Linked DNA regions of Homo sapiens: all the other regions are linked to region 1. Evidence: fine-mapped expression QTL. A gene starts in region 1. Each other region holds a variant in brackets. All regions are shown on one strand. Distances are from middle to middle. Region 1 holds the start of RPS6KA2 (ribosomal protein S6 kinase A2). Region 2 holds the start of RAMACL (RNA guanine-7 methyltransferase activating subunit like). Region 3 has its middle 48 kb from the start of RPS6KA2-AS1. Region 4 overlaps RPS6KA2 (ribosomal protein S6 kinase A2). Region 5 overlaps RPS6KA2 (ribosomal protein S6 kinase A2).

Region 1 (4,000 bases):
TGGAGTGCAGTGGCGCAATCTCGGCTCACTGCAACCTCTGACTCCCTGGTTCAAGCGATTCTCCTGCCTCAGCCTCCTGAGCAGCTGGGATTACAGGCACGCGCCACCATGCCCAGCTAATTTTTGTATATTTAGTAGAGATGGGGTTTCTCCATGTTGGCCAGAATGGTCTCGATCTCCTGACCTCATAATCCGCCCGCCTTAGGCTCCCAAAGGGCTGGCATTACAGGCATGAGCCACTGCGCCCGGCCATTATTGACCATCTTAGTGAGACCTCCAGCACCTAGTACGGGATCTGGCACACAGGAAGCACTAATTGACTACTTGCTCTTAGACTACATGTATTTTCAGCCCATTTGACCTCCTACATCGCTGATGGTTTATGTATGACTTCTAGAAATTTTATTTCTACATGGAAGAAACCTCGTTTCCTATTCCCACCACCCCCCCACCCCCCCCCCCGCTTGTTTCCCACTGTATTCTTTCCGGAGGCACGCCTGCAGCCCAGCCCTCCTTGCAGAACCCTGTGACACCAGAGGCGTGTGTATCCAGAATCAGGCAGATTCCTGAACTCCCACTGGTCAGCCAGTGTCTAGTGCTGCTCTTCATAAACAATGCCTGGAGTGTGCTCACACGTGTACCTCTTCTTGGCAAAGACAGTAAATGGAAGGAGACAAGGAGTTGTCTAATAAACTTGGCATTGAGATGAAACAGGAAACAAAGACATGTATCCGGATAAAGATAAATACTGTTCTGAGTTTCTGATCTTGTCAACTTCAGATTTTTTAAGTGCCTGTGTCCCAGGAAAATGATTTGCCTCACTGGTGTGCTTCATTTCTTTCAATATTAGACTTAAAAGCAAGCCCTCCTCCAGTACTGGATTAACAGTTTTGTTTGAAAGATGTGTTTTACCCTCGGGAACCGGCCATACTGATCCTATCTAGTACTTCCAATTCTGATTTAGGGATGCCATAAGAGAAACTTTTTAAACAAGTAATTCTCTTCTACTTTTTTGTCTATTCCTCAGGTCTCTCAATGGTTACAGAACCCATGTCTGTGTCTAATATCATGGCAGCTGGGACAAAGAAAACCAAGATGAAACATTTGAGATTGTTCCAGCTGAAACAAACCAACCAAAACCCCACAGGTGCCAGCCTTGAGGCAAAGGCGGGACAGTGTCAGGCGAAATCTTTGGGTCCCAGCCTCAGTCTCCCCATCACCATGTCTTTTTCACTTAAACACGTTTCACTGTTTTGTCATCTATAGATTCAACAATGTGATTTGGACACTGGGAATAAGAGAATAAGATTTGATGGTTGAAATAAAACACACCACGAGAGAACCGTCCACAAGGAAACTCTAAGATGCCAAGATGCGGGACAGGTAGAAAGGACAGGGCTTTGGGAGTACTCTGGGTTTTCAGGACGAATCTGTATCAGCCTCGGCGCTGCGAGGATATTGCATCAGGCTCTTTACTCCTGAACGCCGTTTTAGACGCCTAAGCAGATTGTGCTGCTGCCTGTTCTTCCCCGTTCTGTGAATTCTACACTGACTTCAAGTGCACGAATGAGCTACAAGATAAGGTGGAACCTGCCGGCCGGGCACGGCAGACAGCACCTGATCAGCGCCTCGGAGGGCGGAGCTGGGGGGCTTCTCCACTCGGGACTTTGAGGGACCCCCGCGGAGCGCTCCGCGCCACTCGGCGGTCTAGCTGCAGAGAAAGCCCCTCCTCACCCGGGGCTCCCTGTGGCCCACAGGGGACCATCCCACACCCCGTGCAGCCAGCGGCGGAGAAACCAGCTGGAAATGCAGTGGGGGTGGAGTTGCCCCCGCGAGGACCCACGGACCGCCCAATTACTACGGAGTCCCAGCGATAACGTTTGGAGCCGTTTGGTTCGATTTTCGGAACCGGACCAGCTTTCCAGTAACTTGAACTCCCTGACGGGTCTCGGGGTCCACCCAGGGGTGGCGAGGCGGGCTCGGGCGACCACGGCCCGCTCAGTGCCCGGCACCTGCGCGCCCCGAGGGCGGCCGCATTACCTCGAGCCGGCTCAGGCTGGAGCTCTTGGAGCGCGACTTCCTGCGCAGGTACACAGAGAAGAACCTGCGCACGGCGAACTTCTTCATGCTCAGGTCCATCGCCCCGCGCCCAGCCCGGAGCAGCCGCAGGGCCGGGGGACGCGCATCCCCGGCATCCCAGGCGCGGGGCTCAGGTCCGCGGGCGGGCACGCGTGGCCAGGGAGCCCGGCACGGCGGCCATGGGCGCGGGGCGTGGGGCGCGAGCTGCGGTCACAAAGGGCAGGCCGCGCCGGCCACCGCGGCCGGGGCCACAATCGCTCCCTCCGCCTCCTTCTCCGCCTCCCCTGCGAGTACCAGCGCCGGCCACGCGCCACGCCTACACCACGCCCACCACCACTACCACCAATCAGCGCCCGCCGCTCCGCGCCCCGGCACGCACACCTCCTCCTCCTCCGCCCCGCCCCGCCACTACGGCCAATCAGCGCTCACCACCCCTCCCGTTCCCACCCACCACCAGCACTGCCAATGAGAGCCCACCGCCCCGCCCGGGAGAGCCCCGCCTCTGCCGATACCTCCAATCATCAGCGCCGCCCTGTGGTTCCAGGTGCCCATCCCTCCTCCTCTTTCTACTCCTTCCTACAAGAACCAGCTCCGTGCAGCCCCGCCCCCACGCGGTTCCGCCCACGGCCCCGCCCACAGCACTGCCCGCCAATCAGTGCCCGCAGCCGCCGCATACCTAATGAGCCTCGGCCCGGGACAGCTCCCGGCCCGGGCGAGTTGTGCAGCTGCTCCGGAGCCGCGCAGTCGCGGGCGTTCCTGTCACGCAACTTCGGCCCGGCTGCTCTTTCTTCCAGCTTGGGGCCGTCATTATGTTTTCCTTCCTTAAAACATCCCTATGCACACTTTGTCATCATGTTTTTCTCTGCCGAACCAAACTTTAATTGTTGATCAGCAAACGCAGCCAAAACCTCAGCGGCACAGCGAGCGAGGGACCGCCGCCTGCCAGCGGGCCCTGCAGCTCGGCCAGGAGCCGCCCTCCGCGGAACCGGCGCCTTCCCTCCGCCGGAGCGGACAAAGGCGCCCGAGGGCGGGGGCTCAGGCAGCCCTCGGGGCGCCTCCCTCCCGCGGCTGCAGAACAAAGACGCATCCGCCCTCCGCAGCCGGTCCCGCTCTAGGAAACGTCTACACAGATGGCTTATCAGGGCCCGCGCTGGGAATACCCGGGCGGGGTGACCTGGGTCTAGGGCAAGGCCCTCAGACCCGCTGCTGGCGGCAGCGCCGCTCGGGATCCGCCTTAAAGGGAAACACTTTTTTCTTTTTTTTCCTAGAAATGCTCACCAAGGGCTGCAGCAGGGCCGAGAATGCGGGCTCACGACCCCGTGCAGCCTGCTCTGTTTTCCTCTTGTGCACGTGTTGAGTTTGTATTTAAAAACAGGGAGAAACCGAGCCCATTGACATAGCACCATCACCACCTGCAAAGAGCAGAAACGAGTGCGGTGGTGAGTTGACAAGTCTTGCTTGCTCTTTTGCAGTGCGAACTGCAAAATCCTCGCGTTGTTTTGCTCCCTGGACTAGTCAGATGTTGCGTTAATACTTGTGTAGTCTATTTTGGCTAAGGTGGGTAGAGAGGTCAGAATGTCCTTAAATAAGAGCTTTAAAGTCATGCTGCATCCGGGCTGAGGTGAGGTCAGATAGGCTCTCTGGGTTTCCTGGAGACCCGCGTTGAGCGGTGCTGCTCCGGAGTGGAAGCCGGGAGTTTAGCACCACGACTCTGGCGCTGCCCCTTCCTTGCTTGGTGAACTTGGGTGCCGTTGCACGTTGTTCCCACGACTCATCTCTAAGAGGAAAATACGAGTGAAACCTGTCTCACCTCCCTTACTGGATACCAAGAGGCTTATGCAAGATCACGGATGTGGGAGTGCTTTGTGAATTTAAATAGTGCAATTGATTTTCATATTATGTATTAAAGGATCTATAATGA
Region 2 (6,016 bases), 38 kb before region 1:
TCTTTGGTTCCCACCAGCTCTGCTATTCCATTCCTCAACAATTGGAGGAGACTCAGGAGGGCGTTTCAGGTATTCCTGATACTCCTTGTCATTTTCTGTGAATCTACTAGCAAACATCTCTTCAAAATTTGGAACAGCTTCGGCAGTGTCAGTCATTCTGAAAATCCCAAAGGTTTGAGGCAGCTGTATTGCTTAATGTTTAGGTTGTTTAAATCCGCCAAGGGCTATGTCTATCCAGCTCAGGCCGAACCCCGCCGGCGAGACACTGAGAAGCCCAGGAGAGGTGGCCTCTGGTCCACTACACCGTGGAACTCCAGACCACTCCAGTTCTCCAATGTAACCGAGCGCCTTCCTCTCCAAACAAGTCTTTTAATAAGGCCCATGAACTAGTCCATATATATACCAGAGGAGGAAAGAAAAAGAATGACCACAGTTTATTCTGAAGACATGACAAAGGTAACACACATCAGTTATACACAAAGTCAAATTTCAGCATTACCTCCAGGGCAGAGGGAGCCAACAGCTTTCAGAAATCTCTGCTCCTGCCATAGACTGGGGCTCCCCTCAGCTGCCTCCCAGTGGGGACTACATTACCCAGCCCTCCTTGCAGGCAGGTGTGGTCATGTGACTAGCCCTGGCCAATGGAGTGTGTCTGGATGGTGTACCTTAAAGAAGCAGGTGCTTCTTTCATAGTCTCTTTCCCCCCACAGCTAACTGCAGGCCCTTAGGGCTGGTGGAGCTACAAAGAAGAAGCCTGGGTCCCCCAAATCCCCATGTGGAAGCAAAGTGGCCAGTCATCAGGAACCCTGACATTAGACTAACACATAAGGAAGAAATAATTTTTCTTTTATGAACTCAGGGAAATATTTTCCTGAAACACAAGAGTGCACAGTCCAGAGACCCTGGGTCAGAGCCCTACAGGCCCAAGAAAGGCTTGGTTGGACACTGGCATGGGACAGAGGGAGGCAAGAAAGATGAGATAAGCACAGACTAGAGATTCGTATCTGCTTTTCATAAGTACAAGAGAAATGTACCATCAAAATCAGTTCTAATCACCGTCACTCTAATTGTGTGGCATCAGACAAGCTCCTCACCCGTCCTTGGCCTCAGTTCCCTCCTATGTAGAATGAGGGGGTCCTACCTGGATTAGTGGTTGTGAGAAATAAATGAACCCACGCATGTAAAACTCCCAGAACAGTACCTGGCATAGAGTGGGTTCTCAAAAATAACACTTTAGTTCTTCCTGAATATCTCATGCAGTGATATAACATCTTTCTTGAACGAGTCTGCCCTTTTTGAAGTCTGCCATTGGAAAAAAAAAAGCAAACCAGCATAAAATAAATATTATATATATATATACACACACAAAAATGTAAAATATATAAGTGGATTCAGAAGTAGAAGATGAAGGGCCCACGTCTCTGAAAAGCCACAGCTGAAGGCGCTGAAACTAGCCGTCTGGCCTCACTAGCACAGTGGGTAGAGTCTGACTTCCTGCTGGCTGCTGTCATTCATGGCAGGACTTTCCGGGACTGTGCGCTCTCTGCCCTGTGGGGAAGAACCCCGAGGAGGTGAGAGTGAGACCCTGCGCCCTCCTCACTCACTCAGGTTCCAGCCACAACAGTGAATTTATTTTGTTTTTTATCTGTTTGGCTTATCACATCTGAATGCAAAATATGCAGCATAAAATGAATGAAAATTGAGACCCCAGTGATGGTTAGAGAATTCTCGTATCATGAACTAAAAGTGAACTTCTTTCCAAGAAACAGGGGACCTTCGTTTTGCTCCCCAATGTACACACTGTGCTGGGGTCTGAAGTAAACAAGGCAGGAGCTCAGCTCCATCCCAGGGCCCTCACCCTCCACTGCTCCCTGAGTGTGGTTTAAAAAGAGGAACAAGGACCTCCACAAAGT[CA/C]GCTTCACATTCAGCAGGTGGACAGCAGAATCAAATCTCTGCAAAGAAACAGCCTATGAGTGTGTGCAGCTGCTCACAGGCCTAAATTATAATTTCCAGGTGGGGCCAGCGAGTTGCTGCAGGGGTGGCTTTCTGCAGAAAAAATGAGGGGTGGCTGAACTGGATTCCACAGGCCCTAGCCACACAGAGCATCATGCACCTGAACTGGGGGTCTTAGGGGACTCCTCTTGGGCACACGACATCCCTTTGCTGCCTCCTTTCCACAGGGACCCTGCGCTGGGAACTTGCAGCACGTCGCTGAGACACCAGAATCTGGGGAAATTCTGCCTGTCCCCAACCTCTCGCTCTGGCTGATTTTGCCATCTAATTTGTAGCCTTGCATGTACATAATTCCTATTTGTACAGAAAAACAATCAAAGGTGGAACTAGATCGTCTGATCTCAACTCCAGAATGTGGGCTTTATTGCTGCCCTGTAACCTGGGGCTGCTACTCTGCCCTGATGATGGACACAGGGTTCCCGGAAGCTCAGGGCCCGAAGAGAGTCCAGCTGGGCAGTCGCACATGACAGACAGGGTGCGGCAGCCAATGGCCCTCCGTGCTCACTGTCAACCCGGCCAGCAGAGGCCATGCATAGGTGGCCAGGTGCGACTACCTGTGTTCCAGCAAGTAGATGGAAAAGGAACACTGTCGCTTTCTCAGGGCTGACTTCCAAATTGGGGGGAGGAGGAGTGGGTGGTTAAGGGCATCTAGGAGGTGGGTGGCAAGGGAGTGCCCCCGCAGAAAAGGAGGAAGAAGCTCTAAGCCCTTGATGAGTCAGAGCTGAAATTAGTAACATTGGGGTTGCCACTACTCTTTCAAAATTTAAGTCTTTTATAAAAGAGCCCCAGGCTTTCTGGAAACAGGTGGTCAGATTGAAATAAAAATGATGGCTATGGGGCCAGTCTCCTCCTACCACCAGCAAAAGCCAAAAGTGAATTTATGTTTCACAGCCAGTGTGGAGAAAGCGTCTGCTCAACAGCTCAACAGGAAACCACGGTGCATTCCAGGGCCCCTCCTGGGGTTCCTTTGCTCATTTTCACATAAAGAAAGAAAAAGGATGGGAAGTATTAATCTGCAGCACTAAGTATGCACTTTTGTGAGCACTTGTTCTAAATTATTGCCATTACATATCCACACTGGAATTGAAAAATAACCCAGCTCAATTCATCGGCCAAAGACACCCAGCCTCCATGGTCAGAGTATCTTCTATGCCCGACAGGAGGGACTGTACCCTTAGAATTGAAATCAGTTGAAATCAGTCATGCTTCATGGAAGGCTGCATAAACAATGTCATTCTACCCTTAGGTATTTTACCCTCATTAAGTCGCAGAAAATAAGAGCCTAAAGGGAAACTGGGAAATTGAACTTTCAGCTTTTACTATCAGCTCCAATAGAGACTGTTGGTAGAAATGGGCGCACATCACCTGTGTCTCCAGCATCTCTGCATGAAAAACAGAGCGTGGTCTATCAGTCTTACAGAAGACTCTCACCCAGTGCTTTGGCCCAAACAAATCAGATTTGTTGGAAACATTTTCAAAATTTCTAACTCCTAGATTTGATATACAACATAAACTAAACTGTGGCATGAACAGAATGGAGAGAGACTTGGGATCTTACCGGGAGACAAGATCATACCCACCAACCCAACAAATGAGGCCACAGGCATGCAAGTGAGATACACAGAAAACAAGAACAGGAAGGGCCAGAGGAAGAAGGGCCCCTGGGCAGCTTGATTGGGGTGCTCAGAGGAGGAGGCAAGGGAACTGGGGGGAATACAGACGGTGCTGTGGAGAGGGCATTCAAGGTGAAATAAAACAGCTCAAGCAAAGACACAGGGGCTGGAATTGGCAAGCATCATCGGGATGATAAAGACTAAATCTATTTGATTAGAGCAGCCTTCTGGTTTTGCTTCTTTTGTTGTTTTGCTTATACTTTTTGCTTAAAACTTGGACATAGTGGGAAATAGAATCAGAACAGTAAATTACTAGTTCCTACATCAGTAGGCTTTGAGGAGCAAGAACCTACTAAACGCTGATAAGAATCAGTCATTAGGGTCTGGCAGATACAGCATCCACGTAAGATTAAGTTCACAGATTCCCAGTGTGAACTCCGTGTCAGACTCTGCTTTAGGAGGAGACAGATCCTATTTCAGGGCTGGGCACACCTAAAGATGGAGCCTGGCGAGGAGCATGACTTAGGGTGAGAACCATGCCATCAGCCTGCCCCAGAAGAATCCAGACATGCAGCAGCACAATTGAAATCCTCATTGAGGACTTCAGGTCGTTGCACTGTACTATACAGGGGATTCGTGTGGAATGAGTTGATTGCTGCTGCTCTTGCCCCACAACACACACACGCACGTGCATAACTGAAAGCACGTCTATGTTAATGGGCTTTCCTGCAGTAACCTTCTTACTATCTCTACTCATTTCCCGTTGCATCATGTATACCTTAAACATACACAATAAAACTCATTTTAAAAAATTAAAAAAAAAACCTCATTGAGGCAGTGAGTATAATCAACACTAACGGATAAGTGATGGCCCCAGGCAAAGAGCATAAATAAGGGAACGGAAGAGATCATCAAAGACACGACTTAGAGTAAGGCCTTGCTGGATTTAAAAACAGATTAAAACCAACCCACACAAACCTTTGCAAGTAAAATGGATCTGCCTGCCATGTCACAGTCAATGAAGAGTCAAATCTGAGCATTATTTAATTACAAGCATCACAAAAGCAGAAAAACAGGTTGTCTCGGTCTGACTTTAGAATTCTCTTCTACATATTAAATGCCAGAAGATGCCAGAGAGCAATGTTCACTGAGCATCAGGTACAAAAAGGTTGCAGCCCAGGCATTTCACAGTCGCCCAGGCACTCTTCATAGATGCAGGTGATGGAAAAGGCCAGCGTGCAAGGACTCAGCAAACACACCCTCCACGGGAGGCCCTGGGGGCACCTCGGAAAGATGTTACCATCATTCAACGCGACCAACAGTGCCACACTGGAGTGCCTTCTGGGATGAGCAGAATGCCTTTAGACCAGTCACAGTGTGGCTGCTTCCGTCCAAATGGCGCTCGGCATGGGCATGGTTTGATGTGTGCCCCCCACCCCTGAAAAAAGACGTGTTGCATGTCTTGACTTGGAAACATGTGACTTGACTTGGAAACAGGATCACTGCAAATGTGATTAGTTAAAACGAGATCACAGAGGAGGCGAGTGGCCCTAATCCAAGATGACTGGATGACCACCTAATCCAAGATGACTTCTAAAAAGGCCACTGGAAAGCAGACACACACCAAGAAGGCGGCCCTGAGATGATGGAGGCAGCCAAGGAGTGCCTGGGGCCACCAGAAACCAGAAGGGGCAAGGAAGGATCCTCCCAGGGCGTTGGAGAGAGCTTGGTCTTGCCCAGGTATAGTCTCGGAAATCCACCCTCCAGGACTGTGAGAGCATAAACTCCTGTCGGTTAATCCCACCTGTTCGAGGTAGTTTCTTACAGTAGCCCCAGAAAACTAACCCAGCATTTAGTTTTTACTAAAATCTCATCAGTGTACCCACCATGGCCACCTTCAAGCCTGTGTGTATTACACACTGAGTTCCACAAGACAGAAGGCTGTGGACAACAGCCCCCAAACCCAAGCCGGCCCACACTGATGGCACTGGCTGGGCCCACTGTACCTGCAGAAGACAGAAGCATCTGCAATACAGAAATCACTCAGAGCTTAGACAATGAGAAAATGATGGACGTTCTGTTTAAAAAATAATCACCAGCCAGGGCGCAGCAGTGAACCAGAAAGTTCTCAGAAGTCCTGAAAAGTGGGCAAGAGATGGGCCTGGCTTGTAGAGAAAGTGACTTCACCAAATACCAGCAGAAAGAGAAAGACTTCTCGAGGGAACTAGAGAGTCACATATTATAAATAGTAGCGAGGGTCATGGAGAAATCAACAGGATAATGAATTCTCTGCTCTATGTGGAGTCCTGGCCTGCTGAGAGCTTCTGATGGGTGCACCTCAGATTAAAACCAGGGAACTCACCTGCGGGGAAGAGGGCCCCGGTGTGGTG
Region 3 (6,238 bases), 230 kb after region 1:
AATGCACCTGCCCTGCCCCCTCGCCCGGATACTTTCTATTCTGCTATGAAAAACAGAGTAAAATTTGAGAGGAAAGGGAAAGTACCCCCGTAGCCACAAGGAAATGAAGTGGAATCACGCTGACATTTTCAATAACACCTGGATCTGGTTTTATAAAGTTGACCTAACAAGAAAATGGTCCTATTGTTATCAATAAACATAACCCTGAAATCTAAGCGCTTTAAAAATCCATGCAACAGGGCAGGTGTGGTGGCTTATGCCTGTAGTCACAGCACTTTGGGAGGCCAAGGCGAGAGGATCGTTTGAGTTCAGGGGCTCGAGACCAGCCTAGGCAATATAGTGAGACCCTGTGTCTACAAAACAAAAACTAATTAAATTCATGCAACAAATTCTAATATTTTTCAAAGGCTGTTCTGTGAAATAAAAACTCACCTAAAAATCATCTATGTATCTAAGAACATGTAGGGAACAAAGACGATAAAACAGCACAGAGACCCGGGAGCCTGGGGCTGCCTGGCCCTGCACAGACTTCGCCTCTGTGCCGTGGAAGTGGACAGGTGGGGCCTCTCCTGGCCCAAAGCCATTGAAGCTGGCTCTCCTCCTCCATCAGGACAGCCTCAGCCCTCCCAACCGCCCAGCACAGCAGCTCAGAGGAGGCTGGCCGAGCGCAGCCGCCGCCACGTCCTATCCCACCAAAGATCCATGCTCAGCATCGTGGCCACCTAAGTCTCACGAGTGTGGCTGTGAGGTTCGTTTGAGTACACTTGGCCCAACATCCAGATCAGGTTCCCAGGCAACAAGACAGCAGGTTGCCTCTAGACCCTCAACAAGTCCGCCCAGTTAGGCCTGCAGGGCAGTCCCCAGGGGAGCCACGAGCTTGTTTCCTGCACGGAGCTGTCGCCTCATGGAGGCGCTCTCAGCCCCGGTGCTCCTTTGCCTCAGTACACATGGCCTGCAGGAGAGAGGCAGGATGGGGAGAGGCCAGAGCCTCAGGGAGCCAGGGCCTCGCCTGCTCACAGGAGTCATTTTGCTTCTAGATTTTTCTTCCACGACTGTGATGTCGCTATACTGAGCCCCTTCAAGTAATCTCTTAAAGACGTATTGCCTGACAGAATCTGCTGGGTTTTGTGGTTGTTGTTCAGAATATGAAGGATGCCTGCCTCTGATGCGTCAGATGAAATTAGACCAAGAATCCACCCATCCCGTGAATTTATGACACAAACTCCCCCACATCACTACTGCCTTCTTGAGGGAGGAGGCCGTTCCCTCAGCAATGGTGAATAAAGGTGTATTGCAGTAACACCCAAGCTCAAGAACAGACATCTTGTCTTACACCCAAGCTTCACACGGGACCTTCACCAGAACTCACCTTCTTGGAAGCTGCACAGAACCGTAACGTGAGGAATCACATGCCTAGATATCCTATGTGAGCTATCCCAAATGCCTTCTACACTTCAAAAACTATGTGAGAAGTCTACTCCACGAAACTCATATCAGTGAAAGTACTCACAAGTTGGAGTGATCACAGCACCTCCTGCGCTCCTCCAGGGCAAGCCTCGCTCACCTTTTTATTCTTTTCCATGAACCATAATGCCTGGCCTACAGATTATCAATAAATATTCTTGGCTGAATAAATGAATGGGAAAACTGCTGCTGACTTGAATGATTTTTTTCCTAAATAAGATGACTTTTTATCATATATGTTCAGACTGGCAAGAGGCATGAAACGTTTATCAGTTTAGTTGCCACAAAATTTCTTTCTTTTTCAAAATAACAACAGATGTTGGCAAGGATGCAGAGAAAGGGAACGCTTATACACTGTTGGTGGGAATGTAAATCAGCACAACCTCTACAAAAGACATATGAAAACTTTTCAGAAAACTAAAAACAGAACTACCATTTGATCCATAATCCCACTACTAGGTATCTACCCTAAGAAAAAGAAATTATTATATAAAAAAGACACCTTCACTTATCTGTTTATCACAGTACAATTCACAATAGCATAGCCATGGAATCAACATAAGTGTCCAACATCGAAGAATTCAATCAAGAAAATGTGATACAGATACATCATGGAATACTATTCAGCCATAAAAAAGAATGAAATCATGCCTTTAGCAGCAACGTGGTTGGAACCGGAGGCCATTATCCTAAGTGAAGTAACTCAGAAATGCCGCATGTTCTCACTTATAAGTGGGACTAAAGAATGAGCACACGTGAACATAGAGGGGGAAGAGTAAACACTGGGCTACAAAAGGTGGGAGCGTGGGAGTGGGGGCGAGGATGAAAAATCACATGTTGGGTTCTGTGGTCACTGTTCTGGTAATGGCTATGCTAGAAGTCCAGAATTCATGACTACACAATATATCCACATAACGAAACTGCATTTATACTCCCTAAATCTATTAAAAGACGAAGAAGACGAAGAAGACAAAGATGAAGATGAAGAAGAAGGAAAAGAAGAAAAAGGAGAAGGAGGAGGAGGAAGAGGAGGAGGAAGAAGAAGAGGAAGAAGAGGAAGAAGAAGAGGAAGAAGAAGAGGAAGAGGAAGAGGAAGAAGAAGAAGAGGAAGAAGAAGAGGAAGAAGAAGAAGAATAAGAAGGGTTTTGTGATTGTGGTTCAGAATATGGCTCTTTTATTTGAGCCATAAATCCCTAACCTAGAGAAGACCTTGCAAATAACCCCTCTGGAGGCCAAGAAGGATGTCGAAAGCCTGTCTCTAACAAAAGTTACACAACATCATAGAGTATTCAAATGACATTCATCTGCAGCTAGACTAAAAAACTCCATGTTGGGTTTTCAGCATCATCTATCAGAAACATCAAGTAAACAAGTAATTTTCTCCAGTATTTTCTCATTCTTCCCACAAATACTGCAAATGTACCTAAATATCAAGATTATAGTTCTGCAAAATACTCCTAAAATCTGTTTGGAACTCTATTCCTTCATTTATTAAGATGCAAAGATATACTGGTTTTCTATTATCCAGATACAGTAAGCATCAGGAAACAGTAATAATTTCCTCCATCTGATATTCCGTTATCAAAAACAACTTTTAAAGAGGTTGGTTACTTTCATTACATTCTATGATAGATTCACATCTAGATTTCCACCAAAAATGTAGAGAACACGACAACTTGAGACTAGGAGCTCTTAAAAAATAAACACTGTTGATGAATTAAAGGATTTTCTGTTAGTTGTATACATGCACTTTGGGGCATAACATGTGCTATGGTCTAAATGTTTGTATTTCTCCAAAACTCATATGTTAAAATCCTAGCAATAAAGGTGATGGTGTTAGGAGGTGAGAACTGTGGGAGGTGATTAGGTCTTGAGGGTGGACTTCTCATGAATGGGATTAGTGTCCTTATCAAACAGACCCCAGAGAGCTCCCTTGCCCCTTCCACCACGTGAGGACAAGGGTAAAGACGGCTGGCCATGAACCAGAAAGTGTGCCTTCACCAGCCATCAAACCTGCCATGCCTTAATTGTGGACTTCCCAGCCTCCAGAACTGCGAGCAATATCTTTCTGTTGTGTAGAAGCCTCCCAGTGTGGCATTCTGCTATGG[C/T]AGCCTGAATGCAGCAGGACATGGTGTTATGGAATCTTGTTGCTTCAACTGAACCTAGCAGAATGAAGAGTCTGCTCCACCCATCCTGGCTCAGGGCCTTGTCGTCAGCCTCCTGAAGCCAACTACTAAGTCATCACATAAGTCTGTCTGCAGTAAACACACTGAAAGTTCCCTGGAAATCACAGTTCCTACAAAAGCCTAGGCAAGTATTCTGAAAAATGACAGCCAGTCATTTCTCTGAGACCTTTGGCCTTATGAATTTGCTGGGAAGGTACATCTTCCTTTCCTACCCCTACCACTTTGCAAGTATCAGATTGAGCATCATATTTTCAGGAGAGTCACTGCCTCATGCCTGCCTACCTTTTGATCATCATGGAACTGGCAAAAGCAGCGCTATCTACTTTTCCAGGGGATGCAAAGGTACAAGGCCAGGCCAAGCATAGTGTTCAAGAACGCAGCTGGATCGCTGCGCAGCTAGAAGAGAGCTGGACTCTAGACTCCCAGATTAGTGAAAATGCACAGAACCGAAAGGCAGCTGGATAAACGTAAGGCAGCTGAATGCCATTTTTCTTTATTTAACCAGTGGGCTATGTCATCGGATCATAAGATCCAGCGACACTTGGCTTAAATGTTGCATTGGTGTGCATAGGTTTAGATGGTAGTGAAACGTAGCGTTCAGCATCTGAGCAGACCATTTTCTAAAACCAGTAATGTTCATCGATCCAGCCCTTCCAGTCTGCAATATCTGCCAGCTATTTTAAAAGTCAACAGAGTTGCAAATTTTCTAACTGTTCTGGCTCCAGGTGGCATGTGGCTGAGCGACTCAGTCTTCTTAATGGCCAAGTCAATGGCCCACGGCTCCGGCTGCCTCTGAGAGCGTTTGCTTTACCAGTGGTGGAAGTGTGGCTGCGTAACTACAATGCCTTGACTACAGCCTCAACTCAGCCTTCCAATTTACCTCTTTGCTGGCCAGTGTCTCCCTGATGGATACACTTATCGTTACCAAAATCTCCCCTGAGAACACCAGTGTTGCCGAGATACTCTCACTTTATTAAAGTCTAAGTCTGTTTTCTGCTGCCTGGATCAGGCCCATGCTCCTGCACAGCATGAAAATGAAGAAATGCACAGCCTGCAGCAGCAAGAGCTCTTTCTTCTCTTCCGTTTGATGACCACCTCGGGCTGATACCCTGTCTCTCTTTCCTTCTTTCCCAGTCAACCCCTACAGGCCCTGGGACTCCTCTCCGTCCACTGGAAAGGCAACTCCCCACGGATGGAATCCGCTCTTCTCCCCAGCTCTGCTGAGCACCTCATCAGACATTTTAAGCAGCTGTGTCACATGACTTCCAGTACAGGGAGCCCCACACCAGGCTTCCATGCCAGCTGGTTACTCCCAGGCCTCCTTGACTGGTACTAATGCACCATGACCCTCACAAGTGCCCATGCCAGGAGACCATGAACTTTACCTCGATGGACAGCCTTCCGTCCTATGCTCCAGCTATTCTTTTTGAGGGAGATTACCGAATATAATAAGCACATGATATGTACATATGCATATATACACGTTTGTGCATGTGTATGTATAGAGACACATATGTCACTAAAATAACTGCTCACAGATATTTAATTTCAAACTTCCATTTCCCCCTTCACCACCTTCTGGGCCCAATCTCCCCAAACAAAGCAGAGTGTAATAAAACGTGTATAGTTACTTCTTCTGCAGTGTCTTCTGTGGTGGGCTCCACATCCAGGTTGAGATCCTCCTCTGTGGTCTGATAACAAAGATAGATGTTAAAGATGGTTAGCATTGCCATGTGTTTGTAGGTGGCCTCATACAGGTTACCAATATGAAAAAGTACTAACTAAATATCCCGCATGATTTCTGTAGGACATGGAAACCATATCACCGTCCCTTCCCACCTGAATTTATGTTTAACTGTGTGATGCTTCATGTCCGAGATGGATCCTTTATACAACAGGTGGTAAGTAAGGCAAGGAGTGTTCACACTAAACCCTAACTCAAACGACTAAATCAATGAAGCGAGTGTGACTTACGGTACAATCTAAAGGACGACAAGGTGATTCTTGCCAGTGGAGAAAGCGTGGATTTTCATGAAGCTAAAATACGAACGGAGCTGATGTGGAAGCACAGAGCAGCGGTGAAGGCATGTGTGACCACTCCCATGAGAACGGAACCAAATCACAGTCCCAAGTGAGTGCTGGGAGAATGGATTCTAGCAGAGAAATGAGGCCCAGCCCATAAAACGTAAAGCAAGTGTTTCTGTGGTTGGCACAAGGTTTAAGTGGAACCATCTGGGTCTGAGTCTTTGGTTTCTACTTAACAACTTGGAGCCACCTGCTTAACCTGGGCCTCGGAGACATGGCAGTGCTTCTGCCTAGAGATGTGGGGAGAGCTCCACGGAAGAACACCAGCCAGCCATCAGCACCGGCTGCCATGCAGCAGACACGGGAGAGCTCCACGGAAGAACACCAGCCAGCCATCAGCACCGGCTGCCATGCAGCAGACACGGGAGAGCTCCACGGAAGAACACCAGCCAGCCATCAGCACCAGCTGCCATGCAGCAGACACGCAAAGTGAACTGCTGTCATTATTACTATTTCTAGTTTCATCTTCTCACCTAGTAGCCAGGAGATAATCATCTCTATCC
Region 4 (6,238 bases), 160 kb before region 1:
GCAGTTTACGCGGTGTCCTGAACACGGTGTTTTCATGCCTACACATCTTTGCTGGAAGCATCCTTCTTCTCCTCCTTCTGCCCCTCTGCTGGTTAATTCCACTCGCCCTCTTTCAGGCATCATTTCTCTCTCTTTCTGCTGGCCACTTTCACTGTGCACAAACCTCTTCCATCGGTGGATGATGGCGTTATGGGACAGCAGACTCCTCAGTCTGTGAGCAGCTGGAGGACGGGGCTCTGCGTTCCAGCTGTGACGTCATGGACATGGACACTTTGCTGGTGCACCACCAGGGTGAGCACCAAGCGTTATTTATCAAATGCATGAATTAATGCAAAAGTGGCATTTCTGAGCTCTTCTGCCACTCACGGGCTGTGTGGGTTCAGGGCGCTGGGCAGAACAAGAGCCTGCCATTCCTCTAGCACTGCTGCCTGCCTTCCTCTGGGAAGTACAGACATGAAGGAAACACGCCTGGTTCTGATCAATCACAAGGACCTCTCTCAAAACGAAAACAAGGCCAAAATAAAATCAAATTAAGTGCTAAGAGCAACAAAAGGAACTTCTCAGCTCTGATTCTAGTCTGATTCCTTTGAAATCACGCAGAAATGCCACCTTCTTGGGTTGTGTTTGCTTTCCAGCCACAGGGAGACCAGAGCACCCTGAGCAGAGGCGCTGTGTAGAGAAGGCTCTTATTGCCACAGGAAAAAGGCGGCTTCTGCTCAGAGCTCGCCGGACCTCAGCATTCTGGAATGCACATTAATCTAATGTGTCATAGTTTTCCAAATCCATCGTATTGTTAAAATTCCAGGCATCTCACAAGGTTGTCTTAGCAAGTGCGTAAGCCCTTCTGGGCCATGCATACTTTGGAGTGGCTCCACTCTTGGCTGAGTGCTCTGTGTTGCACTGTGTCACCTGGGGGTTCGGTGTGAAGAGACTTCTCTTTCCTACCAGCTGCAGCCCTCAGGGTCTCCCATCCCAGGATGCTGCCCTGCCCACCTGCAGCTCCCCCTCCCAGCCCAGCAATCCTGGTTCTCCATTCTCCCAGGCATGGTCTCTGGAGGAAGGACTAGAGTGTGAGAGTGAGGAAATGGAGGGGGCAAGTCTCCCTCGACAGCTGTGACTCCTGTCTTGAGAGTCTCACTCATTCATTCACTGATTCATTCACTGACTTACTGACTCATTCACTCACTTATTCACTGATTCACTGACTCATTCACTTATTCATTTGCTCGTTCACTCACTCCCTCATTCACTCACTCCCTCACTCACTCATTCACTAACTCACTCACTGACTCCCTTACTCATTCACTCACTCACTCATTCACTCACTCCCTCATTCACTCATTCCTTCACTCACTCCCTCACTTGTTGACTCACTCATTAACTCACTCCCTTACTCATTCATGCACTCCCTCACTCATTAACTCACTCACTCCTTTACTCATTCATTCACTCATTCATTCACTTCCTCACTCATTCACTCACTCATTGACTCACTGACTCATTCACTCACTCCCTCACTCATTCACTCTCTAACTCACTCCCTCATTCACTCACTCCCTCACTCATTAACTCATTCATTCACTCACTCATTAACTCACTCACTCACTCCCTTACTCATTCACTCACTCACTCATTCATTCACTCCCTCACTCATTCACTCCCTCCTTCCCTCACTCATCCATTCACTCACTCAGTAGGGATTCATAAAGTGCCTCCTTTGAGCCAGGCCCTGTTTTAGAGCTGTGGGATACACCTCTAAGCCACAGATTCCTGATCTTGCAGCTTACATTCTAGTGGCAGGAGACAGAAAATAATAATATACATCAGAAACACATGGTATTTTGAGGCGAGTCAGAAAGTGATAAGGGATATGAAAACAGAGCAAGGCCGGGGGCTGGGGTGCTGGGAGAGGAGCTGCAGTTTGGAAGAGCCGCAGGACAGGTCTCATAAGATGACACTGAATGGCAGACTGGAAGGAGGAGACCAGTGAGCCCTTGGGAGACTTGGGCAGGAGGGGCCCTGGAAGCCAGACCAGCTGGAGCCAGTGCTTGGGGGGAACCTGTTCCATGGAGGCATGGGAAGGAGGCTCCGTGAGGATGGGAGGGGTGAGGTGTGGCTGTCCTGACCACTTTCGTGTGCTTCTCCATCTGTCCCCTGCTGCATCCTCCTTGTCAGCACAGTGTCCTCCTGTGACATGTGCAGACCCATCTGTCCACCGCCTTTCTCTGCCAAGTCATCACAAGACCCACGGGTGCAGGACTTTGTTCCATCTACGGCTCTATCCCCAGCCCTGGAAAGTGCCTGAGACTGGGACGCCCAGCAGAAAGGGCTGGATAAATGGAGAAGCAGATCATACGGGGAGAAGCTGTGTGGTCCCACCTTAACCACTGGCAGGCAGGGGAGGGGATGCAACATGCTGTGACCCCCTGAGGGGCAGGCATCTGGGTTCCAGGCACAGTGCTGTGCTAACCATCCACAGGCTGACACCCAGGTCCATTCTTCATGAAACAGGCTTGCCTGAGATCTAAACGCCGTGTAAGGTGAAGTCTCCATAGAAAATACATTCCAACGCAGAGTCGAATGACAGTGACCTTAGGTGCCCATCTGTGAGGTGAGCACAGCCTGAGCTTCTGATAAGCCTAAATTTTCAGGGAAGCTAAGTAAGAGACTCCAAAGGGAGGCCTTGGTTTTCATTTCTTGGAGGTCCTGGTTGGGAGGCACAGATGTCCTGAAACTTTACACTCTTTTCTCTAATCTTACTTTCGAAAAGAAGTCTAATCTTACGAAAGTTCTTTAGTCAGAACTGTAAAACTAGGTTTTAAAAAGTTATCACTCTTCCCCAGTTTGAGTGCTTTGCTGGGGCTCAGGCTGAAGGAAGAGGAGAGCTGGCTGGTTTTATCCAGCACTGGTGTTACACATTCCCAGAGGAGAGGTCTGGGGCTGCAGGTGGGGCCCACCTCTTAATGAAATGCGTGGAGGCCCCGGACTCCA[T/C]GAGGACATAAAGAAGACAGAGGCCGGGCGCGGTGGCTCACGCCTGTAATCCCAGCACTTTGGGAGGCCAAGGTGGGTGGATCATGAGGTCAGGAGATCGAGATCATCCTGGCTAACACGGTGAAACCCTGTCTCTACTAAAAATATAAAAAAAATTAGCCGGGCGTGGTGGGGGCGCCTGTAATCCCAGCTATTCGGGAGGCTGAGGCAGGAGAATGGCGTGAATCTGGCAGGTGGAGCTTGCAGTGAGCCGAGATCGCGCCACTGCACTCCAGCCTGGGCGACAGAGCGAGACTAAAAAAAAAAAAAAAAAGAAGACAGAGAGGAAAGCGAAAGCAGATAATAAACTCTATACTGTAGAGGGCATTTAAATCTTAAAAAGTGTTCCATTAAAATCTTTTGAGGTTAATTTGTTAGGTCAGGAAAAGAAAATCCCAACATAGCTGTTTTTGTGTTAACCTAAAGGAAAGAGCTGAAAGCAACTGATAGGAAAGGAGGTATCGCCTTCCTCAGATGGAAGGAACAGCCTCCGAGTTTTAGCCGCGAGAACTCCCTGTGTGGGGGACGCGTCAGACGCTGACTGCTTCACCATTCGGAGTTGGCGTCTTGGCAGAAATAGGCAATTGACACTTGTAGCTTGGTGAAAAGTGAGATACGAGAACTTCTCAGACAATGTCCAGCCTGGCCCAGAGAACTGGAAATGGAGGCTTTACCAATAACTCCACTAACAGAAGCTCCAGTTTATTCCAACAACTCGGCACTGTTGTTTTTTTTTTTTTTTTTTAAATGTGACTTCCACGTGGGCATCAGCTTGACTAACGATGGAAAATGCAGTATCGAATCTGGGCCTGCCCATAGCCCTAGCACTAAAGGGTCCTGGTTGAGCAGCTTGTCATGACTTTTGTCTGTTCAGCCCTTGAGGTTAGAAGACAGTCACTCCTGGAGCAATCGGGAATATGCAGGGCTCGGAGAGGCCGGGGAGTGGGTGCAGGGAGGACAGAAGCCTCGACTCTGATGGGCAGAGGAGAGTAGAAGGAGGAAAGCTGAGGGGACTTCAGGCCTCAAGCTGGAGGGAGGGGCACTCACGTGTCTGTGCCTCCCAAGTTGCCAGCCCGCTCAGCAGGGTCCTGGGGGCTCCCTGCCTGCAGGTGGCTTGTCTACATTCACCTCCGACCTACTTGTGACCCGGACACTGAGGACCCTCTGCACCAAGCCGTATGTTCCCTCCACCCACTTCTGTGTCACGCGTGTGCAGGTGGGGACTGTGGCATGCAACTTACGTTCCAGTCTATGGTCACAAAGAAGGGATGGCGCTTAATTTCCTCCACTCCGTCAATGCCAGCACCTGTCAACAACACAGAAATGATCATCAGAACAAATCCAAGATGGGGTTCTCTGACAGTTTCCAATGCAGCAGTGTGGAGGGTGGGGATGTGCAGAGGTGGGGCCGTGGGAAGGAGCCCAGAGGCTGCTCACTCCTGCCCAAGGCACCTGCGCACCTGCCGATGCCCCCAGCTCAGAAAGCCACGACTCAGCCCCGAGGGCTTGTGAGGCAGAGGTGGCCTGGGGTTGGAGTGAGCAAAAGAGGTGGTCAAGAGAAGCATGGGACAGGCCAGCCAGGTGCTGCCTGCTGCATGTGACGGCTGCCTAGCACCCCACTGTCACCCCCAGGAGCTTGAGGTGCCTGTGAGTGTGAGCACCAGGTGGACCTCCCAGGAGGCCGGAGGGGAAGGTGCAGAGCAGAGTTCCTGGCAAAGCTGCTGCAGTTAACCCGGGAGGGAAGGATTCCAGGAAATGAAGAGGAGTTGACAGGACTGAGTCCCGGAGGAAGCCAGAGCCCAGCCTCCTGCCCACACCTGGCCACCCCTGAGCCTGCTCAGACAGGTGACTGTGTTTACCTGGAGGCTGCTTACAAATATCTCTGCTTTGTTCTGTTATTTCTACCTAACCTCCTCCCTTACTTTGTTGCGTACAATCCTAAGGCCCTGGGGCAGAAAGGAAGGAGGGAGGAGTAGGCGGAGCGCTGGGGGCCCTTTCAGGCAGCATGATTCCCTAACGGTGGATACATGTCCACTCATCTGCCAGAAATCGCCACTGTCCCCCCAGAACGAGCCCAGTGTGGACAAGGCCTTTAGTCAGTAGCTCAGCTCACCGACTGCAGAAGCGTGCCCATTCACGGAGGCACTACTGTTCGGGAAAGCGGTGGGGCAGGGAGTGAGGGGCCGTGGAATCTTGCTGCAGTTTCTGTTCAGTTTTTCTGTAAACTTAAAACTGTTCTGAACACAAAGTCTATTAATTAAAAACAAAAGGCCCTAAAGCTCTAGGACTCTGTGTTTTCTCCAGGATGGGACGGCCACAGAGGAGCCCATCCTCCCGGGTCACGAATCCGAGAAGAGGCGGGCTTGGCTGGAAGGGGCAGTGGCGGCGGTGGCTGGGGAATTCCTGCCAGCTCCGGGCCCAGGGCTGGGGAGGGTCTGATCCCTGGGGCCCGGCTCCCCTGTTCTGCAAGCTGTGTTCCTTTCCGCTGCCAACTCCTAACGGCTGTGCTCCAAATCAGAGCCTCCTGTGCCATGTATGCCCCTTCGTGGAGCCCCCCTCATGTCCAGCTCTCACTCCTGGAAGAGCGGGGCTGCCCGGGGATGCTGTGGTCAGCACAGGTGTGGCCCGGCCTGTCCGGCTGGAAGCTGGCCTGGAGTGGCGCAGGTCACCGGGAGTCACAGCAGATGGTGCCATCGTTGGCTGGAACTGCCCGTGTCCTGACCCCTCCCACCCCTCCATTCCGCACTCTGGGCAGTGATGTGGAGGAGGCTCGGGGGCTGTGGTGGCCTCAGAAAGCGCCTCTAGGTGGTCAACGGCTCAGAGACAGTCCCCTTACCCTGGAAGCTTGGCCAGGGCCATGGTGCTAGGAACGAACCCACATACTAAATGCCCCTGAAGGCACTCTCACAGCACTCTCAGCTTTGTGTTATTCACACTTTGACGTGAAAGTCCATCTAGAAGGAATTAGAGGAAGGGCACACATTCAGGAGTTTCTCCTTCCATGAGGACGCAGAATCATAGGACAGACATAGCACACGGACATCTCAGTCATCCGATGCACAATTGCTGTTCCCATTTTACAGACGAGGACACTGAGGCTGACACAGGTTGGGTAGCTTGTTCAAAATCAGACCAGAGGTTATGAGTTACAGGTACTGGGTTTGGAGGCACATGTCTGAAAAGCAGCTGAGGTGCCCCACCTTCTGAA
Region 5 (6,238 bases), 45 kb before region 1:
GTGCTTTGGCCTTAGGGCTGTGAAGTTTAACAGTGTTAAATAATGCAGAAGAAAGCAAGCATCCCACAGATACTACTGATGACAATAACACAGCTCTTTCTTTAACAAATGATGGCTTAAAAACTAATCCTGGCCAGCATGCTCCAATCTAGAGAGCGAGGTTTTGTAAACCTGATCCTCAGGTGACAGCAGTGTCTGGACCAGCAGGGCTGCTCACAGGAGTCACCGTGCCAGGATCACTGTGCTGGAGCAGGCCTACTCAATCAGAGTGTCTGGGCTCAGCTCCGAGGTCTTCCACCATGCGCCTCGTGCATTTTCTACACAGAGAAAAGTGTCAATTGGCCCAGGATATTGATGGGATCTGTGCAGAGATATGTGAGGGACAGGAACGTCACAGCTTAGAAACGCAGTTTATGAGATTCTGCATTTAAAACCCACCTTGACTCAACTGCACTCAGAGAGACCAAAAAGCCTCTGCATTCTATATTTCACATTTAGTGAGAAGGCCCAGGTTAGAAGGAAACAGTAAGTCTGATGTCGAGCAGCATGGAAAACGGAGGATCAGTGGATCATGAAAAACAAGCCGGAATGAGAAGGCGTGTCAGTCAAGACAGCCCCGAGCCACCGCCTGGCCGTATCTGCCAAAGGGGTTTGTGATCTTAGACAAGTATCCGTTTATGCTGTTTAGAAAACAATCTATAGTTGTATTCTATTTTCTGCATTCAGCTTTTTTTGAGTGCCATTATGATAAAATGTCATGTTATTATAAAATTTGAAGTTATAATAAAATCCAGGTTGAGATGGGCCCAACAGGTGCGACCTGCATTCTGTACAGAATGCTACAGAATTCTTGGCTGCTCGGGCCCTTCCTGGAGTGGTGCTGGCCTGTCGCCCACAGGCCATCTGGGGAGGAAGAAATGTATGCAAGAATGTCATGCTTCCAGAGGTTTCGGTGGTGGCAATTCTACTGCAATTATTAAAGATACATTGTTACACTGGCTAGTTACAAGTGGGTTATATTTAAACAAAATTTGGAGAAAAATGTTAAATAAAAAATGTTTCCAAGCACAAAATTGTTTTTGGAGAAGATGAACATCCTACGTCACCATGAAACTGGTGTATTCAAGATTCAGGCCATTAGGAAACGCCATGTGTCATGTTACAAGAAGGAAGCAGCCTGTGAAAAGTGTCAACCGCTCCTTTGGCAGAAGAAGACCAGTGTTGTGGTATTTAATGTCGCTAAATTTCACGATTTGACATTTTCTACATTTTCCTTTTTCTAAGATCTAAAGATCACATTATTGAAATTTTATCTCTAAAGAATGGACCTCTTAAATAGTCCTCTTTTATGATTATGCAAATAACTCACATACTGTTTTGAGAAGAAAAAAAAGACAACTAAATAATCTGAGGATAGTTCCTCTGTTATCCCAGCCAAAAAGAATAGGGAATGCATAGTGACAACACCTTCCTAACTGCGACCTTTAGAATCACGGCACTTCATCAAGTTCAGCATTGAACATGCTTAAAGGGCCGTCTTTCTATGACTCAGCCCGGAGGTTCTGGAGTTGTTGCCCCCATCACAGTGGGCTTTGGGCCCCCGGGCCTGCCCCTTGGTTCTAATGATCAGGGAGGTCCTCCCTTATGTGCCCACTGAACTTCCAGTCTCAGGCTGACTCACACAGGACACACTGTGAAAAGCTGGAGAGGAAAGGGCCCAAGTGACACAGTCACCCGATGGCTCTCAGGGACCTGAGGGCCGGCAAAGGTAGAACAGGTGTCCACTAAGCCTGGAGCGTAGCCTCAAACCCACTGTGCCAACACACCCTGACTTCAGCCATAGTCCCGTGCATATCCAAAGGTCTGAAGGAAACTTCAGAGGTGTCCAGTCTTTTGGCTTCCCTGGGCCACCCTGGAAGAAGCAGCATTGTCTTGGGCCACACATAAAATCCGCTAACACTCATGATAGCTGATGAGCTTTAAGAAAAGAAAGGTGAGTGCATAAACCTCATAATGTTTTAAGAAAGTTTACAAATTTGTGTTGGGCGACATTCAAAGCCCCTGGGCCACGGGTTGGACAAGCTTGCTCTGGATTGTACCCAGTCCATGCCTGTCATTGTATGTGATCAAACTAAGCAAAAAGACCTGATTTTCAGTCTACCCCACCCCCAACCCCTGACCCCCTCAGTGGGTCCCCAGTGAGGACGGATGAGACCAGAAGTCCCAATGAGCCCAGTGTGCCTTGTGTCCCTGGGGGAACCAGACCCGATTGGACACGGACTGGATTTTCATGCGTAGGGGGCGGAGGAAAGGGAGGACATTAAATCTTTAAGTGGTTAAAGACACAAAACCCACAGGAATGATTTCTAATGAACAGAAAAAGGGCTGAGGAATTTTTCTTTTCTTTTCTTTTCTTTTTTTGAGACGAAGTCTCATTCTGTTGCCCAGGCTGGAATGCAGTGGCGCAATCTCGGCTCACTGCAACCTCTGCCTCCCAGGTTCAAGCGATTCTCCTGCCTCAGCTTCCCAAGTAGCTGGGACTACAGACACACCACCACGCCCAGCTAATTTTTGTAATTTTTAGTAGATAGGGGTTTTGCCAGGCTGGTCTCGAACTCCTGACCTCAGATGATCTGCCCGCCTCGGCCTCCCAAAGGGCTGGGTTTATAGGCTTGAGCCACTGTGTCTGGCCAGGGCTGAGGAATTTAATATTGCACATACATATTGTCTATGATTCTTTATGTGAAAATCCACTCAAACATCCACTCTGCTTTTGACAGCATCAGCCTTTCTCATGACAAAACCTTCCCCTCAGGGCCTATGCGGAGAATGCCGACAGCACCTGGGCTCCAGCGCCTTCTGGGGCCTAGGCCTCTCTACACCCACCTGGATGCGCAGGTCAAAGTGCTTTGCTTCTCAGGGAGGGAACTGACGCCCCGCTCAGCCCTTCCTTCTCCTACGCTCCACTGTCCTGAGGGACTTGATGTCCAAGTGCTCAGGTGGGTTCGGCATTTTCCACAAACCCAAGGACCAGGCATGGCAGCCTGTTGAGGCCACCGAGAGGCCGGCTTCGAGTATGCGGGGCAGTGGGTGGGTATTTCGCTGTGTCCATTTTCCTTATATTCACTTTCTATTTGAATGACAGAGAATTATACCCAGAAACAGACTAGT[T/C]TAGATTTGAAAGCCCTTGGAAATCACCACTTCAAATGAAGACCCACCCTGGGCGAGATGGGGAGGGAACACCCGCTGGGCAGGAGGGCACGGGGAGAGGGCCGGATGGGGTGGAATGCCCACTGGGCAGGTGGGCTGGGCAGGAGGGCACAGGAAGAGGGTGAGATGGGGTGGGACGCCCACTCGGCAGGTGGGCTGGGCAGGAGGGCACGGGGAGAGGGCGGGATGGGGTGGAATGCCCACTGGGCAGGTGGGCTGGGCAGGAGGGCACAGGGAGAGGGTGAGATAGGGTGGGACGCCCACTGGGCAGGTGGGCTGGGCAGGAGGGCACAGGGAGAGGTGAGATGGGGTGGGACGTCCACTGGGCAGGTGGGCTGGGCAGGAGGGCCCAGGGAGAGATGAGATGGGGTGGGACGCCCACTGGGCAGGTGGGCTGGGCAGGAGGGCCCAGGGAGAGGTGAGATGGGGTGGGACGCCCACTGGGCAGGTGGGCTGGGCAGGAGGGCACAGGGAGAGGTGAGATGGGGTGAGATGCCCATGGGCAGGTGGGGTGAGCAGGAGGGCACAGAGAGGGTGAGCACAGTGGCCACTGAAAGCCGCTGAGCCGTCCATGGAGATCTGAACTGTTGAGCTGGCTTCCGGTGGCATGCACTTTTTGAAATAAAGCCTTTTCATTTGACCATGAATGTGTTCAACAAAACCAAACTTCTTGGGAGAGTGAACATGTGTTAAATGACCATATACTAACCCATCACGCTGACTGTTCACAGCTGCTCACCACCATGACCTCATTAGTTGGGCGGAGATGAATATGCAGCCATTTTACGATCACAAATTACATTCCACAACTGAAATGTAGCATGGAGCTCTGAGAGATTTTTCATAAATCACAAGTTTTATAGTATGCAATGAATTTTTATCAAATTCATAACATAGATGCATACATCTTATTTTGGAAAATGAAATGGCATTTATTTTCTCCACAGAAAAAGTGCCAAAAAATGGGCAGTAATAAAATTTCCATTATTCAAGAGGTTAGATATGATTTCCATCTTGACTGAAAAAGCCAGAACGCTTTGAAAGAACTTCTTTTAGGGGTTCTTATGTAAGAATTGCTATTATGCATCCAATGTGCAGAGGAAGAAAAAACAAAACACAAAAAAACCTCTTGAATAATAAAAGCTATGGAATAAAGCAGTATAATAGGTTGGTTTTAAAACTTAAATATTTTTGGTAACTTGATGTGGATAATAATTTGAAGATTTAAGAAAAATAACTCACTATATTTTTTACCTTCCACATTTTCTCCTACTTTAAAATTCACTCACTTTGTCTTGACTTGGTCGTTGACTGCTTTTATTCATAATTCACTTGGGATAAACAGACTTGAAGCATATACACGATAATTATTTCAATATCAATTCTAATAAAGACAAAGCAGTTTGGTAAGTTTTACTCGCATTCGCATACTTTTCAAGGTATCATATTACACATAATTAGATCCTAGAAACAACCAAATTGCTACTTGTGAGCTAAAAGTGCTGAATTCTTGCTTGTTTAGAAAGCACACTGCCTCATCCAAGGCCCTGATGTCCAGCTCACCCTAGGGTCTAGCACTCTGCACCCTGTAGGACTTGCACCAGAGATCACGGCCTTCTTGGGGCAAACCACAGCACTGTCGCTGTGATCTGCGGAAACGGCTCCCTCCACTTTGCCTCCTGTGAGTCTTGGTGATTAAATTGTTGAGCAACTTCAAAGCACAGAGGCGAAAACCAATGGGAAGAAGCAGCTGGTGGTGGAGAGCTTAAGCATCCTGCGCACCTTCTCTGAGCTCTGGCCAGGCCGTGCTGAAACACTGCGGAAGTCATGTCTACACCAGGGTTCCCCACCCACTGTCCAGAGGTGACAAAGGAGAGACGCTCCTGATAAATGTCTTCACGTGACAGTTTGTCATTAAAAACCGAAGCTAAGCCCACTGAATTCCTGAGTGCTTATTAAAGCGCCAATGGCCAAAAGAGACAAGACTCACAAGACTGTGGCTTTCTCCTCTGGATGGCAGAAGACGTATCTCACTTGGCTTGTTTCAGTCCAGGAGGCATCACGCCAAAGGAAGTACTATGCCACAGGAAGAAATGTGCAAACTGGCTGGTTCTCACGTTTTTCTACAGCATTTTACTTCCATGGGTTCTATCTAATGGTAACATAGGTTAGAGCAAAACACAGTCAACACAGTTGCTTTAGCTCAAGTAATTTCATCACCTTACCCCATAGTGATAGTGACCCTCTAAGGGTCAACAAAAAGGCGCATCTTAAAATGTATTTTATAGCTCTGGTAGGCCAGGTGTGCAACGAAACAAGGTTAATAAATTTAAAATGCCTTGGTGTGTTTTGCTCCTTTCTTAGTCTGCCTGAGCTGCCATAACAAAGTACTATGGATTGGGTGGCTTACAAAACAGACATTTATTTCCCATAGTTCTGGAAGCTGGAAGTCCAAGACCAAGGTGCCAGCCATTTGGTCCTGGTGAGGGCCCAATTCCTGGCTCACAGGCAGCTGCTTCTTGCAGCGCCCTTTCGTGGTGGAGCAAGAGCTCTGGTCTCTCTTCCTCTTCCTCTGAGGACACTACTCCCATCGAATCAGGGCCCCAGGCTTAGGACCTCACTTCACCTTCATTACTTCCTTACAGGCCCTTTCTCCACATAGAATCACACTGGGGGTTGGAGCTTCCAAATGTGAACATGGAGGGATACAATTGAGTCCATTAACATTCCATCCCTTATTTGTAGTAACAGCATGACCATACTCAGTGATGACAGGGACACTCTAAATGTCAACATTTACATCTTACAACACTTTTTATAGCTCTATTAGGCCAGTTATGTCATGACATCACAATTAATAAATGAAAAATGCCTGGGCATTCTGGGGATACTCAGCAGCTCTCCAGATGTTAAGGAAACTCAGTATACCCCAATCTGGTCATTTCTATCTGTGATTGTGATCTTTTGCACTTTATTTTATAGTAATTTTAACTGAAATTTTTAACGGAAACAAAGGAGCTACGCTGTC

What was found. PIP is the estimated chance that this variant, and not a neighbour inherited with it, causes the effect. A credible set is the group of variants that fine-mapping cannot tell apart.
Region 2: its variant is the best candidate, but not a certain one, in a credible set for the expression of RPS6KA2 in blood mononuclear cells (TOPMed, PIP 0.72).
Region 3: its variant is the best candidate, but not a certain one, in a credible set for the expression of RPS6KA2 in whole blood (INTERVAL, PIP 0.79).
Region 4: its variant is the best candidate, but not a certain one, in a credible set for the expression of RPS6KA2 in monocytes after interferon gamma (Fairfax 2014, PIP 0.85).
Region 5: its variant is the best candidate, but not a certain one, in a credible set for the expression of RPS6KA2 in whole blood (TOPMed, PIP 0.77).

What each region holds. Positions count from the first base shown.
Region 1 is chr6:166,624,881-166,628,880 of GRCh38, forward strand. It overlaps RPS6KA2 (ribosomal protein S6 kinase A2), which reads right to left and starts at 2,371. Exons shown (of 21, transcript NM_021135.6): 1 at 2,041-2,371. The coding sequence starts at 2,139. RefSeq lists silencers at 2,241-2,590, 2,651-2,820, 3,071-3,130.
Region 2 is chr6:166,586,322-166,592,337 of GRCh38, forward strand. The region is part of intron 1 of RPS6KA2 (ribosomal protein S6 kinase A2); the gene reads right to left. RAMACL (RNA guanine-7 methyltransferase activating subunit like) reads right to left here and starts at 357. Exons shown (of 1, transcript NM_001395999.1): 1 at 1-357. The coding sequence starts at 156. RefSeq lists a silencer at 560-699 and enhancers at 2,248-2,297, 2,878-3,137. The variant CA/C (reference allele first, on the strand shown) is at 1,914.
Region 3 is chr6:166,852,919-166,859,156 of GRCh38, forward strand. It overlaps a transcript of RPS6KA2 not described here. Among named protein-coding and RNA genes, the nearest start is that of RPS6KA2-AS1, 48 kb to the right of the region's middle. RefSeq lists an enhancer at 205-1,183. The variant C/T (reference allele first, on the strand shown) is at 3,573.
Region 4 is chr6:166,465,570-166,471,807 of GRCh38, forward strand. It overlaps RPS6KA2 (ribosomal protein S6 kinase A2), which reads right to left. Exons shown (of 21, transcript NM_021135.6): 11 at 4,272-4,336. Among named protein-coding and RNA genes, the nearest start is that of RPS6KA2-IT1, 3.3 kb to the left of the region's middle. RefSeq lists enhancers at 3,954-4,857, 4,858-5,761. The variant T/C (reference allele first, on the strand shown) is at 2,992.
Region 5 is chr6:166,578,499-166,584,736 of GRCh38, forward strand. All of the region lies in intron 1 of RPS6KA2 (ribosomal protein S6 kinase A2), which reads right to left. RAMACL (RNA guanine-7 methyltransferase activating subunit like) reads right to left here. Exons shown (of 1, transcript NM_001395999.1): 1 at 4,511-6,238. Among named protein-coding and RNA genes, the nearest start is that of RAMACL, 5.1 kb to the right of the region's middle. RefSeq lists enhancers at 1,264-1,764, 1,765-2,265, 2,346-3,166. The variant T/C (reference allele first, on the strand shown) is at 3,172.